Homo sapiens: one gene and its partners. The protein of the gene in region 5 interacts with the protein of the main gene of each other region in a pairwise test. Each region holds a gene or a part of one and is shown on either strand. Other genes may lie near its edges.

Region 1 (3,500 bases), on a different chromosome or scaffold from region 5:
GTGTCAGCTACTTGGGAGGCTGAGGTGGGAGGATCACTTGAGCCCAGGGAGGTCGAGACTGCAGTGAGCTGTGATCATGCCACTGCACTCCAGCCTGGGCAGTGGAGTGAGACCCTGTCTTAAAAAAAAAGTCTTAGCAAACACGTTCTTATTCACATAGAATCTTACATGACAGTAAAAAACAAATATTAATTACTGTCAAAAATCTTACCTTGACACAACCATGTAAAATATGCCCAAGGAAATTAATGAGATTCCAATGTGCAATGACACGCCAACAGTGCCATACTCTTGAAAAATCTTTTTCAGTTGCTGTGACTTGCTTTGCTTTTTCTCCTCTGTGCAGCTGACGCTGCTGCCTGTTGTCCCCGTGGCCTGGCTGGGGTCCTGTGTACAAATCAGAGAAGAGGAGGTGCTTTAGGGCAGGCACGGGCAGTCATTACCGGCTTTTATACACGCATGCAATGTTATACTCTTTCCTGCTGGATGAGAGATCAGTTACCCCTTTCCTTTTTCTTTTGAGACAGAGTCTCACTCTGTCATCCAGGCTGGAGTGCAGTGGCATGATTGTGGCTCATTGCAACCTCCACCTCCCTGGTTCAAAGGATTCTTTTGCCTCAGCCTCTCAAGTAGCTGGGATTACAGGTGTGTGCCACCACACCCAGCTAATTTTTTGTATTTTTAGTAGAGATGGGGTTTCACTGTGTTAGCCAGGTTGGTCTTGATCTCCTGACCTGGTGATCCACCCGCCTTGGCCTCCCAAAGTGCTAGGATTACAGGCGTGGATCAGTTACCCCTTTCCTACTCAGTGAGCCGAGTTTGAGCCAACTTAGTCACTAAGTGCAATGCAAGCCTGGAACTAGGTATGGCTGGCAGAATGATGACTCCAAAGATGTCCCAATCCCAGGATCTGTGAATATGTCACCTTACATGGCAGAAGAACTTTGCAGATGTGATTAAGGGTCTTGAGATAGGGAGATGATCCCGGATTACCTGGGCTACATTATTACCAACGTCATCACAAGGGTCCTTATAAGTGAAGAGAGGGAGGCAGGAAACTCAGTGTCGGGGAGGGGGTTGTGAGGACAGAAGCAGAGTGAGAGAGCTGAAGATGCGGTGCTACTGGCTTATGGAGGCAAGGGCCATGAGCCAAGGAATGCAAGCGGCTTTAAGCTGGAAAAGGCAGGACATGGATTCGAGCCCCTAGAAGGACCCATCTCTGCTGAGACCTTGACTTTAGTGCATTAAGACCCATTTTGGACTTCTGACCTCTAGAAGTGTAAGATAATAAATGTGGATTGTTTTAAACCACCAGGTTATGTGCTCATCTGTTACAGCAGCAATAGTAACTAAAACACCAGGGCTCACAAGCTTGGGGACAATGATCCTTTATCAAGCATTTTCTCTGAGCCAGGTGGTCCTCCAACCCTTTCTCCTTCCATCCTCATGCCAACCTTCAGAGGTAGATACTACTGCTTTTCCCACTTTGCAAAGGAGCAACACAGGCTTGCTGAGGTGAGGTCATTGGCCTGATGTCACCAAGATTAGAACCCAGGCCCTCCAAGGCCACAGCCTGAGCATGTGACAACCATGTTATATGCCATCAAAAAAGGACGGTGCGCACAAAATTAATGCAGCAAAAGCGATGGCAGATTTACTCCTAGAATCAAGATTTACACCTGACATCTGAAACACACAAAGTGGGGGCGATTTTTGCACAGTGCCCTACCAGGACTTGTACAGAAATCATGGATTGCATGGGACATCTGCTAACAGTTACTGAGCACCTACCAAGCCTGGAATGTGTGGGAGAAACAAAAATACCAACCTCACCCACATTAGGGGAGGGAAAAAAACCACTTCTCAATAACAGAGCACTTTAATCAAAAGACTTCTCTAAGGACAGTCCTGGGGCTTGTCCCGGCAGGTGATGCGCACCTGGCTGGAGGTCAGCTCTTGTTATGGGCTCTGCAGCTGGCCCACTTTTACCCTGTTATTTTTAGAGGCATAAGATTTTTTAGAACATTTGAGGAAAACCCTCAGTGTCCCGATGACAGGTCCCTTCTGCTGAGCCAGGAGTTGAGCTTCCACTTCAAAGGCGTCATTTCATAAATCCCTCACTGCCTCATGACCCAGGAACCTTTGTCGCTCCTGTTTTGACAGATGGATGACTGAGGCTCAGGAGGGAGGGACGGCTAACTGGCAGCATGGACTGGTGACTGGGCTGGTGACCACCAGGCCTCAGCCTCTGTGGTACTCAGCAGGCTCCCCTTTCCTGTCCTGCCAGAATGACCATTCTTAAAGGAAGACACTTTTCCAGAATGTCCAGGCTCTGGAGGGGAGGAGGGAAGATGTCATCAGCCCCCCTTTCTTTGGCCAGCACATGTGACCTCCCGTTTCCTTGAAGCCTTCTGACTAGTCCTGCCACCCCCGGCCAGGATGGCTGTGGAGGGCATCGGTTCTTCCTGATAAACAAGCCCCACCCACCTCCAGCTGCTGAGGGAGGCTGCAGAGGGGACAGCAGCCAGGTGGTGGGGACTGATAGGAGGCCACCTACAGCCCCTCGCAGGGCCAAACACCCATGCCCTTGACACCTGGCCCCATTCTGTCCAATCACTGGACCGACTGCAGCTGTCTCTGCGAGGGCCCTCTTCTTTATAGTCTTTATTTTGGCAAAAGGACTTTTGGCCAAAAAATAAAAATAAAAAGGCAGCCAGGATTCCAGCTATAGAACTGAGCAGAATCTACTGCAAGACTGTGGTAGGGCCAAGACATTCAGACACAGGGACAATCTCGGGTTAGCTGGCACCACGGTTGGCTTCTGACATTCTAGAGAACACCCAGTTACTGGACAATTTTATTCCTTTTGTTTTGATAAAAACACCCATCTATAAGCACTGTGAGCCACGCATTTTTCTTCCTAACCTTTGGGGAGACTAAAGAAGCTGAAATAAAAGAATTTATGAGGGCGTGACTTGCAGGCAATGGAAAATTTTTAGACATTCATTTCTTCGTGAAACATTGCCGTAAGTACCCGGGATGTGTTAGGCACTGTCCTGAATGCACAGGACGGCGTGACACATCTTCTGTCTGTACTCAGCATGCATGCACATGTGTGTGAGAGTGTGTGTGAGACAGTGTGTGTGTGAGATGCCCCTTCTGCCTCTCCCCAACATTTTTTAAAGTACAAAAACCTGTAATAGAGAGGGGGTAGGAAGGTTTAAAGAATGAGCCAAGGACCTTGCCAAGCCGATCGCAGTGTTTGGAGTGACACCTGTTTTCTTCCACTTGAGAAATCATATTAATAATAAACACTATATTGTGTATATTCTGTACTAGGCACTGTTCTGAGTACTTTGAAAATATTGGCTGGGCACGGTGACTCATGCTTGTAATCCTAACACTTTGGGAAGCTGAGGTGTAGGAGGATTGCTTGAGGCCAGAAGTTCAAGACCAAGCTGGCCAACATATCTTTTATTTTATTATTTTATATTTTTGAG
Region 2 (2,296 bases), on a different chromosome or scaffold from region 5:
AGGGGCAGCAGGCTGGTGGGGCAGCCGGGGTCAGGGAGGGGGCTGGGCCTGGTGCCAGCGCCCGGATCTGACCCAGCCTCTGCTTATCTCAACCCTGTTGACTCTGGGCTGTTATCACTGCCCAAGGATTTACTTCACACCCGGACAGCTAAGAATAGAGCCACCTGGGGGGCACCATGCCAGGGGGCAAGGAGGGCGTGGGCCAGGCGAGGAGAGGGGAGAGCCACTGGCACACAGAGCTCAGTCACGGAGCCCAGTCACGCTAGCCCTCCAAAGCCCGCCTGGGTTTCGTTTCCTCCTTCCTCTTGTGCTGCCAGGGTTAGCCAGAGGTGGCTCCTCAGGCCACCCCTACTCCCCAATGTCACCTCCTCCTCACATCTCCTGCTTCTCAAACAAACTCGCTCCTTACTGCCTCCTGGCCTCCCTGTCTCCTCCCCCAGCCCCCTCACACACATTCTGACCGCCCTGCTGCCCACGGGTCACAGATGAAAGATCAGAAGTTGGCGCAGTGGGAGACCACGTTTTATTCAGTCCAGTTCAGGATCCCCGCTATCTCAGGGCTCTCTGGGCCAGTCCTCCTGGGAGCCCCCACCACAACACTTCCCAGGCATGAGCCCTCAGGGGCCCACATGAGCTTCCACACACTGAGAAGTGTCCGAGAAATTGGTGGGGCCTCTGAAGGAGGCTGTGAGCAGCCCACCTGAACTCCCAGCTCACCAGCCCAAACAGGGTGCAGGGGCTCTGGCCCTGAAGAACCTGAGTGGAGTGGAATGGCACTGGCTGGCCACTCAGCTCAGCGGGCGACGTGCCCCTACAAGTTGGCAGAAGTGGCTGCCACTGCTGGGTTTGTGTAAGAGAGGCTGCTGCCACCATTACCTGCAGAAACCTGGGTGGAAGGAAAAGAGATCCAGGGTGAGGAGCAAAAGGTACCTCCTAGAGCCCCTGGATGCCACCCCAGGCTGGGGTAATCAGTCCAGAGTCCTGGCCAGCTCTCAAAGGGTTAATTCAGAGAGAGCACCTGCCACCCCACCAGCCAGGTGACTGTAAACAGGGCTGCCCTCCTCCCTCTGCTCTCCTTCACTCCCTCTTCTTGGCTCTAATCAGCCCCCTTGTCCCTCCATTCTCTGCTGTTCCAGCCTAAGGAGGTGTGTGTGTGTGTGTGTGTGTGTTTTGGGGGGCGGGGTGTATCTGTGTCTTTGTAAAGCCGAGAGAGGGAGGTCTCCAGGAGGAGGAAAATAGGAGCAAGAAAACTAAACTCTCTCCTCCCCCACCTGGAGTGGTTTTCCAGCCTCAGGTGGCTGCAGTAATTATTTACTAGGTCCCATAGAGAAAGACCAGGAGAGGAAGGAGGGAGCGTTCCTTGCTTCCTTGAAGCTCCCAAGAACCCCACTGGCACCCACGCTCACCTGGTCTGCTGACACTTCTTCTTCTACCTGGGAAACCTCCCCCTATGCCAGCCTTTCTCGGTCTACCCTCCATTCCTAGGAGATGATTAGGGGCACAGAGGCTCACCCCTGGGACTCCTCGGGAAGGGCTCCCCTGGGCATAGTGCTCCACCCATTTTGCCTCTGGGTGCAAAAAAGCAAAACAAAACAAAACTGCCACGGTGGCACCAGTTCAGCCAGCGCCAGCCAGCATGAATGTGGACGGCCAATGATCTTTTAGGAATTCTGGCAGTGGGGCCACTCCCTCTTGAGGGCCCCTTTCTTCCATAGTCTCCTCCCAGGCCTGTCCCCCAAAACTCCTCTGACCTCTGCCCCTCATCCTTGCCAGGCCCTCCCCTGCTCACTTCACGCCACTTCTCACCTCTTCCAAGCTCTTTGGGTTTTCCAAGTACCCCCTTCAGAATCCTTGCCCAGCCAAACCCTCTGCTTCCCCTGGCCTGTGGGGCCCAATCTCACCTTCTCATAGGGGCTACGATCGGTACTGCTAGGGGGCACATAGCGCCCATGGGTGTGGTAGGTGGGGTACTCGCTCATAGGATGGTAGGTATCCCGGGCTGGAAAGATGTCCAGCTGCCCGTAGTTCTTTCGGCGGCACTGACAGACAGCCTGGGGAGATAGGAGGTTATGGCAGGCCATGGAGTGCCTTCTACCGGGGGGCTCTGATCAGGGCCAGGGACTGCACTCACCAAGGCAATGAGATAGACAATGGCCAGCGCAACCAGAACACAGACCAGCACCAGCAGCGCGATGCCCCAGCCTGGCACCCCAGCCCCAGACTGGGCAGAGAAAGGAAATGGCACATCACTCACTAAAAGGAAAAGCAGTGGTCAGGGCAGTCTCCCAGAGGAGGC
Region 3 (3,500 bases), on a different chromosome or scaffold from region 5:
TAAAACAGATACAAGTTCAGTTTTGCTTTTAATTTTTATTTTCATCCTCATAAATTAAGCAGTTTTGTAGCAGAATAATTCAGAAGCAGTAATTGTTAGTTTCTATGCCTAGCCAATATCTACCCTAATTTCACAATAATGGTTTTAGGATTAAATTTTGTGAGATTTTTCCATAATGCTAAACATGTGTTTATTTTTAGTCATACATTTTTAAAGTTCAGGCTCTTAATTAAATATTGACAGTGTAATTTGGTGGAGTATACACATTTTGGCAAACAGTTGGCATTAACTGTATTTGCCAATATTAAATTTAGTAACAGATCAGGCACTTGGCCAGCAGGTGAGGAAAGTTTGGTCATGTAAAAAACTGAATACAGGAGGAGAAAGAAAACCAGATTCGTTAAGCACCCACAATATCAGATCCATTAATTTTTTTATCTCCATAATTCCTCAGTGAAGTTGGTAAGTATTCCTGCTCTACAGGTGGGGAGTCTGAGGTCTAGGTATTTTAGGTAAATTGGCTTGGATTACATGTATGTCTAATAAATCCAGATGGATATTACCACACAGCTTATCTATACTATTTCTAGTAAACTGCATCCTGTGATAAACTTGTAGAGAATCTTACTGTTGTTTTTCTTTATACTCTTCCCTGGTTCCCATAAATCCAAGGATTTAAAGCCTCAAAAAAAACATGCCTTTCGGCCAGGCACGGTGGCTCACGCGTGTAATCCCAGCACTTTGGGAGGCTGAGGCAAGCGGATCACTTGAGGTCAGGAGTTTGAGACCAGACTGTCCAACATGGTGAAACCCCATCTCTACTAAAAAAAAAAAAATAAAAATAAAAAAATAAAGGCCAGGCACGGTGGCTCATGCCTTAATCCCAGCACTTTGAGAGACCAAGGCGGGCAGATCACCTGAGGTCAGGAGTTCGGGACCAGCCTGGCCAACATGGCCAAACCCTGTTTCTACAAAAATACAAAAAAAAATTAGCTGAGCTTGATGGTGGGTGCCTGTAATCCCAGCTACTGGGGAGGCTGAGGCAAGAGAATCACTTGAACCTAGGAGGTGGAGGTTGCAGTGAGCTGAGATCTCGCCATTGCACTCCAGCCTGGATGACAGAACGAGACTCTGTCTCAAAAAAAAAAAAAAAATGCTTTTATGGCTTTATGTTATACTGCCCAAAATGGTGGCCCCAGGTGGCTAATTAAAAGTAAATTAATTAAAATTAGATATAATTAAAAATTGAGTTCCTTAGTAACACTAGCCACATATAAAGTGCTGAGCCCACCATGGCTACCATTTTGGACAGTGCACTTTGTATATTTTCATATTGTGAGACTGGCGTGCCACCTACTGCACTAACAAGGCACCTCTTAGAGTATTTCTGTCTTCCCAGAGAGTTGTTGAAAACAACACTGATTCTAAAGGTCAGAGGAGGAGAAGGAGGAAACTCCATTTATTGAGCTTAGTATCGCTAATTTTCAAACAGCCCTATGAGATTGCCCAAAGCCACATATCTAGTAGGTGGCAACACTAAAAATTAAATCCAGATTTTCATAGCTTCAATCCTTCCCATTGTATTACAACATAGTCTATTCAGTTTCACATGTTTACAGAATCATAAGTTTTGAAGACTCAAACAGCTAGTATAATTTTTAACAATTTTATTTAATATTACTGCAATGGAACTTTACCAAAACAGTGCTTTTATTTTTTTGGAATGGCAAAAAATTATACACTTGACTTTTTGATAGTTTATTTTGCGTTGTTGAACCTTGCAATACTGCTGCTCCCTTATTCCAGGTGGAGTATTCTTTGACATATACCAAAGCTATATTTTTTCCAACTTACCTTTTAAATTCCACTGAAAGAAAAAAGTCACGTAAGAAGAACCCCATGAGATGCCTAATATTTAGGAGGTTGGGGAAAAGAACACATGTACCTTGAAGTGTTTTTCCTCCATTTTAAACTTTATCTTCAATTTGTTCACTTTTATTTAACACTTTAGTTTGCAGAATTGGAAACTCTGTGTTTGCAGAGTTGCATCATAAAAACTGGACCCAATCTTACCTATTTCTTCATGGATGTCCTAAAGTTGCCACTGCCCACCTCTCATCCCAGCTTCTTGCTTTGAAGCCAACTGGCTTTGTTGTTTGGGCTAATGCCCATATGCATCTATTACCTACCAGTAAGATAAAAGGATTAGCTAGGTTTTCTGATGATTTTTTATATTCTGCTCAAATTTCTACTAGTTATTTCTATTATAACTACTTAGTTGGCTCTGAATTCAACATCATCCCGTTGTTTTTAATCTTTGAGGGAATCGTATTTGTGTTAAATCCTAAAGCATATTATAAAAGGATAGCTTGAAACCAGAAGCTGTTATTCAGGGTGGAAGAAAGGAGTAGATTTAATAACATCTGGAATTAGCCATTCAAGTTCTTTTAATTGTTTTTTCAACACTCTGACATAGACCACTCCTTTCCCTGTGCACCCAAGACAGACATGACTGTATAACTCCTGTATTCTTTTGGAGCCTATATCCAGTCTCAGGATCTTTAATAATAGGATTTCAGCTCCATTTTTAAATACTGAGGAAGACTTCCCTGGATTTCATTACAGTAAAAGCTTAAGAGATGAGAAATGGAGTTAACTGAGTCTTCAAAACAGATGTGTTCCTATCCTCATGGAGTTAATAGTCTATTAAGGAAGAGAGGCAGTAAACAAGGATTTCAGTATGTAATTATAATCTGTAATATGCTATAAAAGAAATTAATAGAATGGGAATAGAGGGTAACAAAGGACTTTATTTAGATTAAGTGGCTAAGCAAGGTTACCTTTTTTATGTTAGATTCTCGAGAAAAAGGGCTCGACATTTAAGCAAAAACCTAACAGAGCCAGCCATACAAAGATTGGGTATGAGAATGTTCTGAAGTGAGATTGTTACTATGCTTTCTATACCGAGCAAAGCCATCTAGCAGTAGATCTAGAACTGATCATACTAGAAACCTCTTTAACACTGTTGATTTTCAGATTTTACTTCAGCCTTTATCTGATTAGTATTAACACAATATTTCATTTTCCATCCCTTTTAGTCAATCTGTGTTGTTTTATTTTTCTCACATTAATGACATATAGCTGGATTTTTTCATTTAATATTAGCACTATGTCCTTTAATAGCTTAATTAGTGTATATGTTTTGTGATTACGGGTATATTTAGGTTTATTTCTATCATCTTATTTTGTGATTTCTCTTCACCTTACTTTTCTTTGCCTCTTTTCCCACTATTTTTCCTTCTCTGATTGATTTTTTTATTTCTTCCATTTTCTCTCCTCTACTGATTTGGATGTATTCTATTTCTATCCTTTTAGTGATTTCCTTAAGTTTTTGCTATAGATGACTATCCTATGCTTCTGAACAATATAAGAATTTTAGCCAAACATCATTTTAGTGTCAATTTGAAAAAGCTGCCTCTTTAAGATACTTTACTGACATT
Region 4 (3,500 bases), on a different chromosome or scaffold from region 5:
CTCCTTCTCCAGGACTTCACTCCGGTCACTGTCTCGTCTCTGGAGCATCACTTATGCTCTTTAGTCGATAATTTCCAACAGCATATTAACATTCTGCTACATCACCCTCCTTAGAAAAGCCTCCCTCGACTCCACATTTCCCTCTAGCTTCAGCTCATGCTCTCTCCTCCCCTAGGCAATTTCCACTATAGAGCTGTCAATACTGGCTCCAACTCCTCCCCCATTCCCTCCCGAACCCACTCTAGGGTGGTCCTGTCACACCCTTAAATGACTCAGTCAAGGCTATAAGTGACTGTTGCATGTACATGCCATGGTCAATTCCCGCTTGACATCCAGAAGCATCTGATGTGGTATTTGAAACACCCGTCCGTGGCTGGCAGGATGCCACATTCCCAGCTTACACTCCTCCTCCAGTCTCCCCTACCAATTCCCCCTGACACCCTTGGCCTCTAATGTGGGAGGCCTGGCACCCAGCCCTTTGAGCTTCCCTTCTTCTCCATCTGCCCTCACCTCCAGGGTGATTTCATCCAGTCCCACAGCTCTATACACATGCTGATGATGCCAACATCTGCATCTCCAGGCAAGTCCTCTCCCTGAACTCCAGGCTTGAATGGAAAACTTACTTGACACCTTGGGTGTCTAGAAGGACACCCAGATGCTATTGGTCTGAACACGTCAAAAGCCGAATACCAGCTGTACGATCCCATTTCCGAACATCTAAACCTGCCCTGAGTCTCCCTCATCTTGCTAAATGGCAACTCTATCCTTTTTTTTTTTTTTAATGGAGATGGAATCTCACTCTGTCGCTCAGGCTGGAGTGAAATGGCACAATCTCGGCTCCCTGCAACCTCCGCCTCCTGGGTTCAAGCAATTCTCCTACCTCAGCCTCCCGAGTAGCTGGGACTACAGGCGCACGCCGCTACGCCCGGCTGATTTTTTGCATTTTTTAGTAGAGACAAGGTTTCATCATGTTGCCCAGGCTGGTCTCAAACTCCTCAGCTCAGGCAATCCACCTGCCTTGGCCTCCCAAAGTGCTAGGATTACAGGCAACTCCATCCTTCTTACTACTCAGGTACAAAACTTTGGAGGCATCCTTGACTCCTTTTTCCTTTATCCCTCATGCCCATCAGGAACTCTTCTCAGCTCTACCTTCAAAATACATCCAGAAGCCAGTCACTTCCCACCACTTCCACTGCCACTCTGGGCCGTGCCCCACCATCTTTTGCCTGGATTGATCACTGCAACTGCCTCCTAATGGGCCTCTCTGATTCTGTCCTTTCCCCTGCCCAGTCTTGTCCACAGAGCAGCTGGAGAGCTTTTAAGTCAGATCATGCCTCACCTTCTTCAGGGCCCTACAATGGCTTCTCATCTCATGCAGAGTAACGGCCCGAGTCCCTACAATGCCCCTGCAAGCCCTGCATGATATGGCCCTGTGACCTCTCTTTATTTATTATTATTTTTTGAAATGGAGTCTCACTCTGTTACCCAGGCTGGAGTACAATGGCGCAATTTCAGCTCACTGCAACCTCCACCTCCCAGGTTCAAGAGATTCTCGTGCCTCAGCCTCCCGAGTAGCTGGGATTACAGGCGTGTGCCACCACACCCAGCTAATTTTTGTATTTTTGGTAGAGACAGGGTTTCACCATGTTGGCCAGGCTGGTCTTGAACTCCTGACCTCAGGTGATCCACCCGCCTCGGCCTCCCAAAGTGCTGGGATTACAGGTATGAGCTACTGCACCCGGCCTCTCTCACTTCATTTCTAAGCATGCTCCTCTGCTCCAGCCACCCTAACCTTCTTACTGTATCTTGAACTTGCCAAGCACATTCTAGCCTTAGGAATTTGCATTTGCTGTTCTCTCTGCTTGTAACACTTCCTCCCCAGACATCCACATGGCTGGCTCCCTCACTGTCTTCAGGTCTTTGCTAAAATATTACCTCATCAAAGAGTTTTTCCCTGACCTCCATATTTAAAATAGGACCCTCACTGCCCTACCCTAGCCCCTCCCCATTACCATCTTTATCCTGCCTTGTTTTGGTCCATATGACTTAACAGCATCTGATATACCATATACAGATGCTCCCTGACCTACACTGGGGTTACGTCCCAATAAACCCATTGCAAGTTGAAAATATTGTAAGTCGGCCAGGTGCGGTGGCTCATGCCTGTAATCCTAGCACTTTGGGAGGCCGAGGCGGGCAGATCACTTGAGGTCAGGAGTTCAAGACCAGCCTGGCCAACATAATGAAACCCCATCTCTACTAAAAATACAAAACTTAGCTGGGCGTGGTGGCACGCACCTGTACACCCAGCTACTCAAGAGGCTGAGGTAGGAGAATCACTTGAATCCAGGAGGTGGAGGTTGCAGTGAGTCAAGATCATGCCACTGCACTCCAGCCTGGGCGACAGAGTGAGACTCTGTCTCAAAAAAGAAAAAGAAAATATCGTTAAGTGAAAAATGCATGTAATACCCATCATGAAGTTAAAAATTGCAAGCTGAACCATTGTTAATTGGGGACTATTTATATTTTATATACTTATTGTCTATTTCTTTACTAGAATGTTCTGAGGGCACAGATTGTTCACTACTGTACCCTTAGCAACTAGACTAGTAGGTGATTACTAAATATTTTGTGAATGCATGAATGAACAAATGAATGAGAATAAATCTCATTTGTTCACCCCAACAGCCCTGTGAGTGGGTACTATTATCATCATCCCCATTTTACAGAAGAAGCAACTAAATAGGGCCCAAATATGACATAGCCCAGGTGTGGCAGAACCTGTGCTCCAACCTAGCTCTGCTTCTCCCAAAGCCTCATGCACAGGTCATCATCGGACACGGGGGGCTACCATTTCAACAAGTACCTACCACAAGCCAGGCTCCGTGCTATCATCTTTAACCTGCACACACACCCTGTGAGATAAGTGCCCTCACAACATTTTATAAAGTAGAAAACAGGAGTCAAAAAGATTAAGAAACCTTCTCAAAGTCACACAGCCAGTAAGGTCTGAAACTGGTATCTGAATGCAGGCAGTCTGGCTCCTCGGCCTGTGCTCTTAGCCACTGTGCCAAACTGCTGCCCTGAGATGAAGGCCTGCTCTGGCCAAATGGTTGCCCAAGACAAATGAGCAGCAGGCAGAAGAGGACCACTCAAGCTCACCAAGAAGGTGGCCAGCATCTAAATCTCCCCAGCTAGTGCAGATCACTCACCGTGCACATGGGACTGCTGGAAGCTCTTCCCAGGGGCAAAGTGGAAGTTTCCGGCCACCTGTAAGGAACATTCTCTCTCATTCACTGGCTGTGTCCTCCTTTTGCCTACTCAGGGCCTGACTGGGCCCTCGGTTCCCAGTGGAGCTTGCCCAGCCCAGCTGGCCCTATCTTGTCTTGATCCCTCCTGATACCTTATTGACTTCCAAGAAGCCATACACCTGGCAGCCTTCATTCTTCTGCTCCTGCATCTTCTGGCTGAAGCCCTCTCGCCGGCACTGCTCAATAGTA
Region 5 (3,500 bases):
AGTTCACCTCAGGATCAATAAGACTAAATTAAAAACAAATAATATCACATATGCTTAACTTCATGGAGATATGCTATGGCCACTTGAAGGTAAAAACAAACTATACAGAGAAAACTATAAATATACCATCTTATATTTGTAAAGCACTTCACAAAGGAAGTCCACATATGTGATCCCCCTTCAACTCATAACAACTCAGCGAGACAGGAAGAGCAGACGGTAGTCTCCTGTGTCACTGATATGGAAACAGGGAACAAAGGAGCTAAGCCTCTGGCCAGAGGATGTAGAGTTAGAAGACATAGGGGCCAAGAGAGCAAGAACCCTGCTTCCCTGTATTTTGCTCTTCCTTTAGGGCATTCTAGCTGTGAAAAGCAATCTGAATGCCCTGAAGTAAACCAGCTGAAACATACCACTCTGACATAACTGCTAAGCATTCACTTTTCATTTTAAAAATCTACCCCTGGTTGCTGAAAATAAAAATGTATTCAAAACTATTTATAAATACACACAGCTATACTTCCACCAATACAACAGTGAACCCTAACTAGGAAAGAGGATTAATGTTACAATAAAAAATTTTCAAGGCTAATTTAAGCTGAATATTTTATTGTTCCAAATTTATTGTATCCAAATTGTCAAAGTATCCTAAAATTCCAGCAAAAAACCCTAGTTCAAGACTACAAATGACTTTGCACAAATGTTTTCATTTCAAAATAGTATTATACTGTCACTGAAAAAGAAACGATGTAACAGGTTTCGGTCCTAACTTAAATCGCTCTTTTTAACTTTGTCATTAAACCATTTTTTAAAGTCAAATACAGACCTGAACTGAAAAACCTTAGAGAGGCATTTCTTAAGATTTAAGAGTGCATGTTTTGTAAACAAGAAAATCTACTGTGCTTTGTTATTTGCAAGCAGGATTATAAGAGAAGTGTGCTTATGTATTAATATACACTCAAAAGTGCTCTTCAACAGCTGCCGATTGAAAGATGACTTATCATTGTTCCATCTTTCCTGTCCCCAGGAAGTTTGAGAAACAATGTCTATGATCACAGCATTCTTCTTAACCAGAACAGCTTTAAGAAGCACTAAGGTATTCAATCTATATGAGTTCTTTTTGTAACATCTGCACTACTTAGAAAGAATGATCAGGCCAGGCGCGGTGACTCAAGCCTGTAATCCCAGAACTTTGGGAGGCCGAGGGGAGCAGATCACCTGAGGTTGGGAGTTTGAGACCAGCCTGGCCAACATGGTGACAACCCGTCTCTGCTAAAAATACAAAAATTAGCCAAGCATGGTGGCATGCACTTGTAATCCCAGCTACTCGGGAGGCTGAGGCAGGAGAATCACTTGAGGCCAGGAGGCAGAGGTTGCAGTGAGGCAGAGGTTGAGATCATGCCACTGCACTCCAGCCTGGGCAACAGAGTAAGACTCCATCTCAAAAAAAAAAAAAAAAAAAAAAGAATGATCAGAGCCACAAATACAGAAAACCTTGAGGCAACGTGAGAATTGACCTCCAAACCTAAAAATGTCTTAGGCAGTTAAGTAGTGCAATTTCTGAAAACATCAAAAATTTTCCTTGCTTCCAATTTACACTGTACATTTCCCCTGCTCTCTGAACATTTCAGCAGTGCTCTATCAGGAAATTCAATGATAAAAATTCCTGAATCTCTTTAGGTCCCTTGTCTACTCTCCTTTCTGATCCTCCAATCCTTTGTACTTCCCCCTCACTGCTACCAACTTCTGAAAAGTTGACTAAAACTATGGAAGCAAGAGGCCCAGAAAGAGAAATCACCCCAACGTTAGAATTAAGGTTAAATAGCACCTTATTTGGTCACCAATAAGTGAGTCTTTCCTAGTTCTTTCTTACTACTGCATTCGTTTGAAAAAAAAAGCATCAATATCCACTTCCATCATGAACATTTGTATTTTAGTGAATAAGAAACTCTACAATAAGAAGCGCTTAAAAACTGAGCTTTTCTGTATGATCAGCAATTATCTGAATACATGTTTCACGTAGCTTTCTAAAAATCTATTACTATTGTGAGAGCAAACAGATCACTGAGCTTAAGAAAATTACTTGGGAATTAATCTTTATTCCCAAGTAATTCCCAAATAATTATTTACGTTTAAATTCAAGGCACAGTTTTGAATATCAACTATATGTCATACACTACTCTATCTTGTTGACAGATTTAGAAATTTTTAAAATTTTTATGTAGTAACAAAATGCTTTTATCGAAAATGCTCTTACTTTTTCCTATTTCAGGAAATTATCTTCTTTTTAAACAGTCTATGCAAAAAAACAAATTTCCACCAGAAGTTTGCTGAATAACTGTGCTATCAAAATAAGTTATCAAAAATAAAGAAAACTCTAAATAGACTAACATTAGAAAAAGCTAAACTCCACTTGCATCAATTTTAAATAAAAGCAATTATAAATTAAGAGGCTCATTATGTAAATTTGCATATATGCATGTATGTGTATACAAACATAAATACTACATATATGTATACAGATACATTTGTCAAATTCTACACTATACCAGTTTAAATATTTATACAGAGAGCCAATGCTAAGAAAACAGAATTAAATACAATATCTTGTTCACAGATTTTTGTGACAGCTTTAAAATGAGATACAATACAGAATTCACGCAGCATTTGTTTTCGAAGATTATATTTCTCAACTGAACATTTTCTTTAAATATTACAAGAGAGCCCCCTATTGACCAAAACTGTTAGCAGTTCTGCAGAATCAGCTAATTATCACTCACATACTTCCAACAAGTACATAATGGTAGTAGCTATATCCAATACATAATGCTTAAAAAGCTTTAAGGGGTAAGGAAGAGGTTATCAGGGTGTCTGAAATGTTATTAATTAAACAAATGAAAAGGGGATATAAACATTCGGATGCATATGGTTTATTACAATTAGAAATAGCTACCATTTAAGTACATCCTACTTGTCAGATATTGTAGTAAATGTTTTATATACATTGCCTCATTTAATACAACCACCTTAATCCTTTTGTATATCAGGCTGCAGTTAATTCTTACTTTTTTGGCTCAAATCTCTCCCTGTTAGAAAAGATAGGATTTCTGTGGAAAAATGACTTTGGGAGTTGACAGAACCATATAATCTAAATAAAGATATCCTTATTAAGATATTGTAAAACTATATAACTTTAACATAACTGTTGTTTAAAGCTGCCAAGTTGTAAGATTTACATTTTATTACCCACCCCTCTTTTCTTTGCTAGAAGTGAATTATTCTTACCATGGACAGTGATGATCCATTCTCCTCACACAGTGGCCGCAGCGGCTACAGTGATGGGAACGCTTTGGTCTCATCAAATTACACTTGTTACATAATTCCCAGAACTCCCTTTCTAAAGAAAAGAAATTAAAATCCATTTAATGAAGGCAAGTGGGTAATGCTGAAATTTACCAACAGTTGTTTAGAAGATTTTATAGGAAGCCTTCAACATAAAACTC
Region 6 (3,500 bases), on a different chromosome or scaffold from region 5:
TTACATATGTGTAACTATATATATAAAATGCAACACATTATTTTACTTAAAATGAATTGATTGTCCAGCATATTCAAATACACAACCATAAATCAATTTTATAATGGAATGTTGCCACAAGTAAAACATTTCTGAAACAAGCATGATAATGAAATATGGATGGGATTAACAAAAATTCATCTTTTAACACATTATAAAAATATATTAATATTAATTTTTATATTTCTAAAAGCTAAACAACAGTTGAAGGTTGCAAATCTAATTTCTAGTTTATTCTTGGCAATGCAAAACATTTTATGTCGTATTTTGAAGAAATAATGTATTTTTAAAGTAGTAAAAGAAAATTCAACTTCTTAGAACCAACCTAAATGAATTTAACTTAATTGTTGATCATAATAACTCCCTATTTAAACTGTCATTTTTACTAAAGCCTGTATATGCAAAATGCTTCTGGATTAGTGAACTAGGTATTAAAATACCTTACTTAAAAAATTAATCTGTGTCTATATACTGTCAATAGACAGTAAGATACAAGATACGAAACACAATATTTAATCAAACAATTTGCAAAGTCAGGAAATGACACAACTATGGTTTTAATGAAATCAGAGTTGTTAAGAAGGTGAGCTATTGCTTGATGACTCGAGATATGGGAAAAAAAGGTGATAATGACTTGAAAGAAAAACACATATGGGAACCAGGAAAACAGAAAAACTGATTTTATTTCATAGTTTTAAAAGGAGGTCTACTATTCATAGAGATTATGGCTATATCACTCAAATCAAACACATTTCAGAGTTAAAAATAAACCAATATATTTGAACCACAGGAGAGATGGTAAACTTCTCACAAGGAGGAAATGACTTAAAAGATAGCACGGCTGACTTTTGTTAAAAAGGCGTTGTGCCACGAAGGTCTTATCAGTGACTGTTCACTTTTCTTAATGGCATTTTATCATTTTATGTTCATTATCATTCTATGACCATATCTTTCTATGCTAAAGGCCCCCTATAAAACATGAGGTGTGCATCTACTTAGGTATTTCTTTTTCTATATTATAGAAAAAAAAAGATTTAGACAAACCCCCTATATTAGAGAAGAAACATTTAGACAAACTCTCTGTTCTAGGTCACAGAGAAGGAGTTGCTGTGGTATCCTGTTCTTTTCCACCAACTTTAAGGCAGGCGCTGTTTTTCCCATGAGACTTATACAAAGAGCAAAAGTACTCTGATTAATGCCATACTCCATGTAACAAAGAAAGGAAGATAAATGTATCTGTGAGGAGATTTTAATTCCTAACATCATAGATTATCTCTCACCCTTACCACACACAGAATTCCTACTGACTTCAAAGAAAGTTCTGAGTAGCGGGTAGAAAAAAAAAATTAAAGAAATAGGTCCAAACCTCTGCCAGAAATTAAGAGTAAGTAAAAGTGCTCATTCTTTTTGATGTACAGTGTGGTATGCTGTATCGTTTTCATTCAACAGAGAAATTTAAAGAGAGGACTACCACAGGAGAGAGGGAAAGAGACACTAGTGAGAAGCTGAAGATCTTACAATATGAAACACTAATAGAGGCCAATAGAAGAGTAAAAAAGTAAAGAGAAACAGGAAATAACAGAGGCATCAGAGAAAGCACACAAGACCCTACCAGTAAGTAGACTGGTGACTGGGTTTTTTTTTTTTTTTTTTTTTTTTTTTTAAGAAATGGAGTCTCATTCTATTGTCCAGACTAGAGGGCAGTGGTGCACACATGGCTCACTGCAGCCTCCACCTCCAGGGCTCAAGTGATCCACCTGCCTCAGCCTCCTGAGTTGCTGATGCCACAAATTATAAGTAAATAAAAATGTTCATTCTTTTTTATATATAGTGTGGTGCACTGTTGTTCTCTCATTCAACAGAGAATTTCCAAAAGAGAGAAGGAAAGAGGCACTAGTAAGAAGCCACCATGACCAGCTGACTGGCTGAGTTCTAACACTGGCTCTGCTACTGTGCATAGGACCTTAGGAGCACAATCTATCTTCATTTCCTCCATCTGTAAAACTGGATGGGAAGTAGGTGAACCAGATTAGTGCTTCTCCAGTTTCAATGAGAAAACGAATCACCAGGTTGGGGAGGGGGGCGGGTGGGCATGGTAAAAATGCAGATTTTGAGACAGTGGGTCAGATATGCAGCCCATTTCTTTTCTTTTCTTTTTTCTTTTTTGAGACAGAGTCTCGTTGTGTCACCTAGGCTGGAGTAAAGTAGCACGATCTCCGTCCACTGCAGGCTCAGCCTCCTGAGCTCAAGCCATCCTCCCACCTCAGACTCCCAAGTAGCTGGTCCTACAGGCACACGCCAACACACCCTATTACTTTTTGTATTTTTTGTAGAGACAGGATTTTGTCATGCTGCCTAGGCTGGTCTCAAACTCCTAAACTCAAGCAATCCATCCACCTTGGCCTCCCAAAGTGTTAGGATTACAGGCGTGAGCCACCATGCCCAGCCCATGCAGCCCATTTCTAAGAAGACCACATTTTCCAGGAAGCTCTAACTGATGCTATGCCATTATTCCATGGACCATCCCCTTTTGAGCAGTAACAAACTACATGATCATTTAGGTTTATTTTAACTTCTGAAAATTGTTACTTTTAAAAATAATTATTAGGAGGAAGAATAGACTAATGGTGAGGAAAACTGGATCAAGAAAATTTTAACTGGTCAGGGGACGCATTTTGCATGACCAGAGCACCTGCACATGTTACTATTCCATTACAGCACTCATTACACTGTCCAGTGACCTTCTTTTAAACTGTTTTCTCCCTGAAAAGAGGGGCTGGGTGTTTCATTCTTGTATTGCAAGGCCTATCAAAGTACCTAAAAATATATTTGATGAATAAATAAAGAGTAGATAATTTTTTCACACTATTCCTCTATTCTCTATCCTTTCTGCCAAATCCAAAAGCACATTTGTTGATATTCAAGGTTTCCTCAGTGTCCAAGAACCCTTCCTAGAGCTTTTCCCAGATCCTCCTCTATGCTGGCATAATAACTTTATCCTCAAGTCAACAACTCATCAACCTAGTATTTAGTGAATATATGTGCTCTACAAAGCTCAATGACCTTTTACTTCATTCCTTACTCCAGGGGAAAAAAGCAATGCCCTCACTTCTTTGCCCAACAATGCAAGGCATGCATTCATTCAACAACCACTTAACAAATCCCTGTTTTCAGCCTATAAAAGGCCACATTTTACACCATACCCTTCTCAAATTAGCCCTTCTAGTTCAGCAGGGTCAGAGAGCTTTCAAAAATTCAGCCTCCCAGGATTATCATGGAAGCTACAGTAACTGTCAACCCCTAATCCACAGCATAACAATTCCCAACCTTTTAATAATATTTGGATGAAATTCCTCCATGTCTTTACATGTTATAATACTATACTAGTTATGTTTGTTTTTCTGCATGTATTTGCATTAATATTTCCTTTAGTGCTTCTGATGAGATGCAAATATTCTATA

Evidence for each region.
Region 1: the proteins of ZDHHC21 (region 5) and FAM210B interact in binary tests that used the Homo sapiens proteins (3 or more experiments, as listed by UniProt).
Region 2: the proteins of ZDHHC21 (region 5) and MUC1 interact in binary tests that used the Homo sapiens proteins (3 or more experiments, as listed by UniProt).
Region 3: the proteins of ZDHHC21 (region 5) and PGRMC2 interact in binary tests that used the Homo sapiens proteins (3 or more experiments, as listed by UniProt).
Region 4: the proteins of ZDHHC21 (region 5) and ERGIC3 interact in binary tests that used the Homo sapiens proteins (3 or more experiments, as listed by UniProt).
Region 6: the proteins of ZDHHC21 (region 5) and ELOVL4 interact in binary tests that used the Homo sapiens proteins (3 or more experiments, as listed by UniProt).

Annotation. Positions count from the first base shown.
Region 1 is NC_000020.11:56,361,974-56,365,473, reverse strand, and holds part of FAM210B (protein FAM210B, mitochondrial), read right to left. Parts: intron 388-3,500; coding exon 212-387; intron 1-211. UniProt on the Homo sapiens protein: Plays a role in erythroid differentiation. Involved in cell proliferation and tumor cell growth suppression. Involved in the metabolic reprogramming of cancer cells in a PDK4-dependent manner.
Region 2 is NC_000001.11:155,185,324-155,187,619, forward strand, and holds the end of MUC1 (mucin-1 isoform 10 precursor), read right to left. Parts: intron 2,254-2,296; coding exon 2,132-2,253; intron 2,052-2,131; coding exon 1,902-2,051; intron 887-1,901; coding exon 812-886; 3' UTR 501-811; downstream 1-500. UniProt on the Homo sapiens protein: The alpha subunit has cell adhesive properties. Can act both as an adhesion and an anti-adhesion protein. May provide a protective layer on epithelial cells against bacterial and enzyme attack.
Region 3 is NC_000004.12:128,281,314-128,284,813, reverse strand, and holds part of PGRMC2 (membrane-associated progesterone receptor component 2), read left to right. Parts: intron 1-3,500. UniProt on the Homo sapiens protein: Required for the maintenance of uterine histoarchitecture and normal female reproductive lifespan. May serve as a universal non-classical progesterone receptor in the uterus.
Region 4 is NC_000020.11:35,548,578-35,552,077, reverse strand, and holds part of ERGIC3 (endoplasmic reticulum-Golgi intermediate compartment protein 3), read right to left. Parts: coding exon 3,404-3,500; intron 3,271-3,403; coding exon 3,213-3,270; intron 1-3,212. UniProt on the Homo sapiens protein: Possible role in transport between endoplasmic reticulum and Golgi. Positively regulates trafficking of the secretory proteins SERPINA1/alpha1-antitrypsin and HP/haptoglobin.
Region 5 is NC_000009.12:14,658,933-14,662,432, forward strand, and holds part of ZDHHC21 (palmitoyltransferase ZDHHC21), read right to left. Parts: intron 3,395-3,500; coding exon 3,283-3,394; intron 1-3,282. UniProt on the Homo sapiens protein: Palmitoyltransferase that catalyzes the addition of palmitate onto various protein substrates. Palmitoylates sex steroid hormone receptors, including ESR1, PGR and AR, thereby regulating their targeting to the plasma membrane.
Region 6 is NC_000006.12:79,927,054-79,930,553, forward strand, and holds part of ELOVL4 (very long chain fatty acid elongase 4), read right to left. Parts: intron 1-3,500. UniProt on the Homo sapiens protein: Catalyzes the first and rate-limiting reaction of the four reactions that constitute the long-chain fatty acids elongation cycle.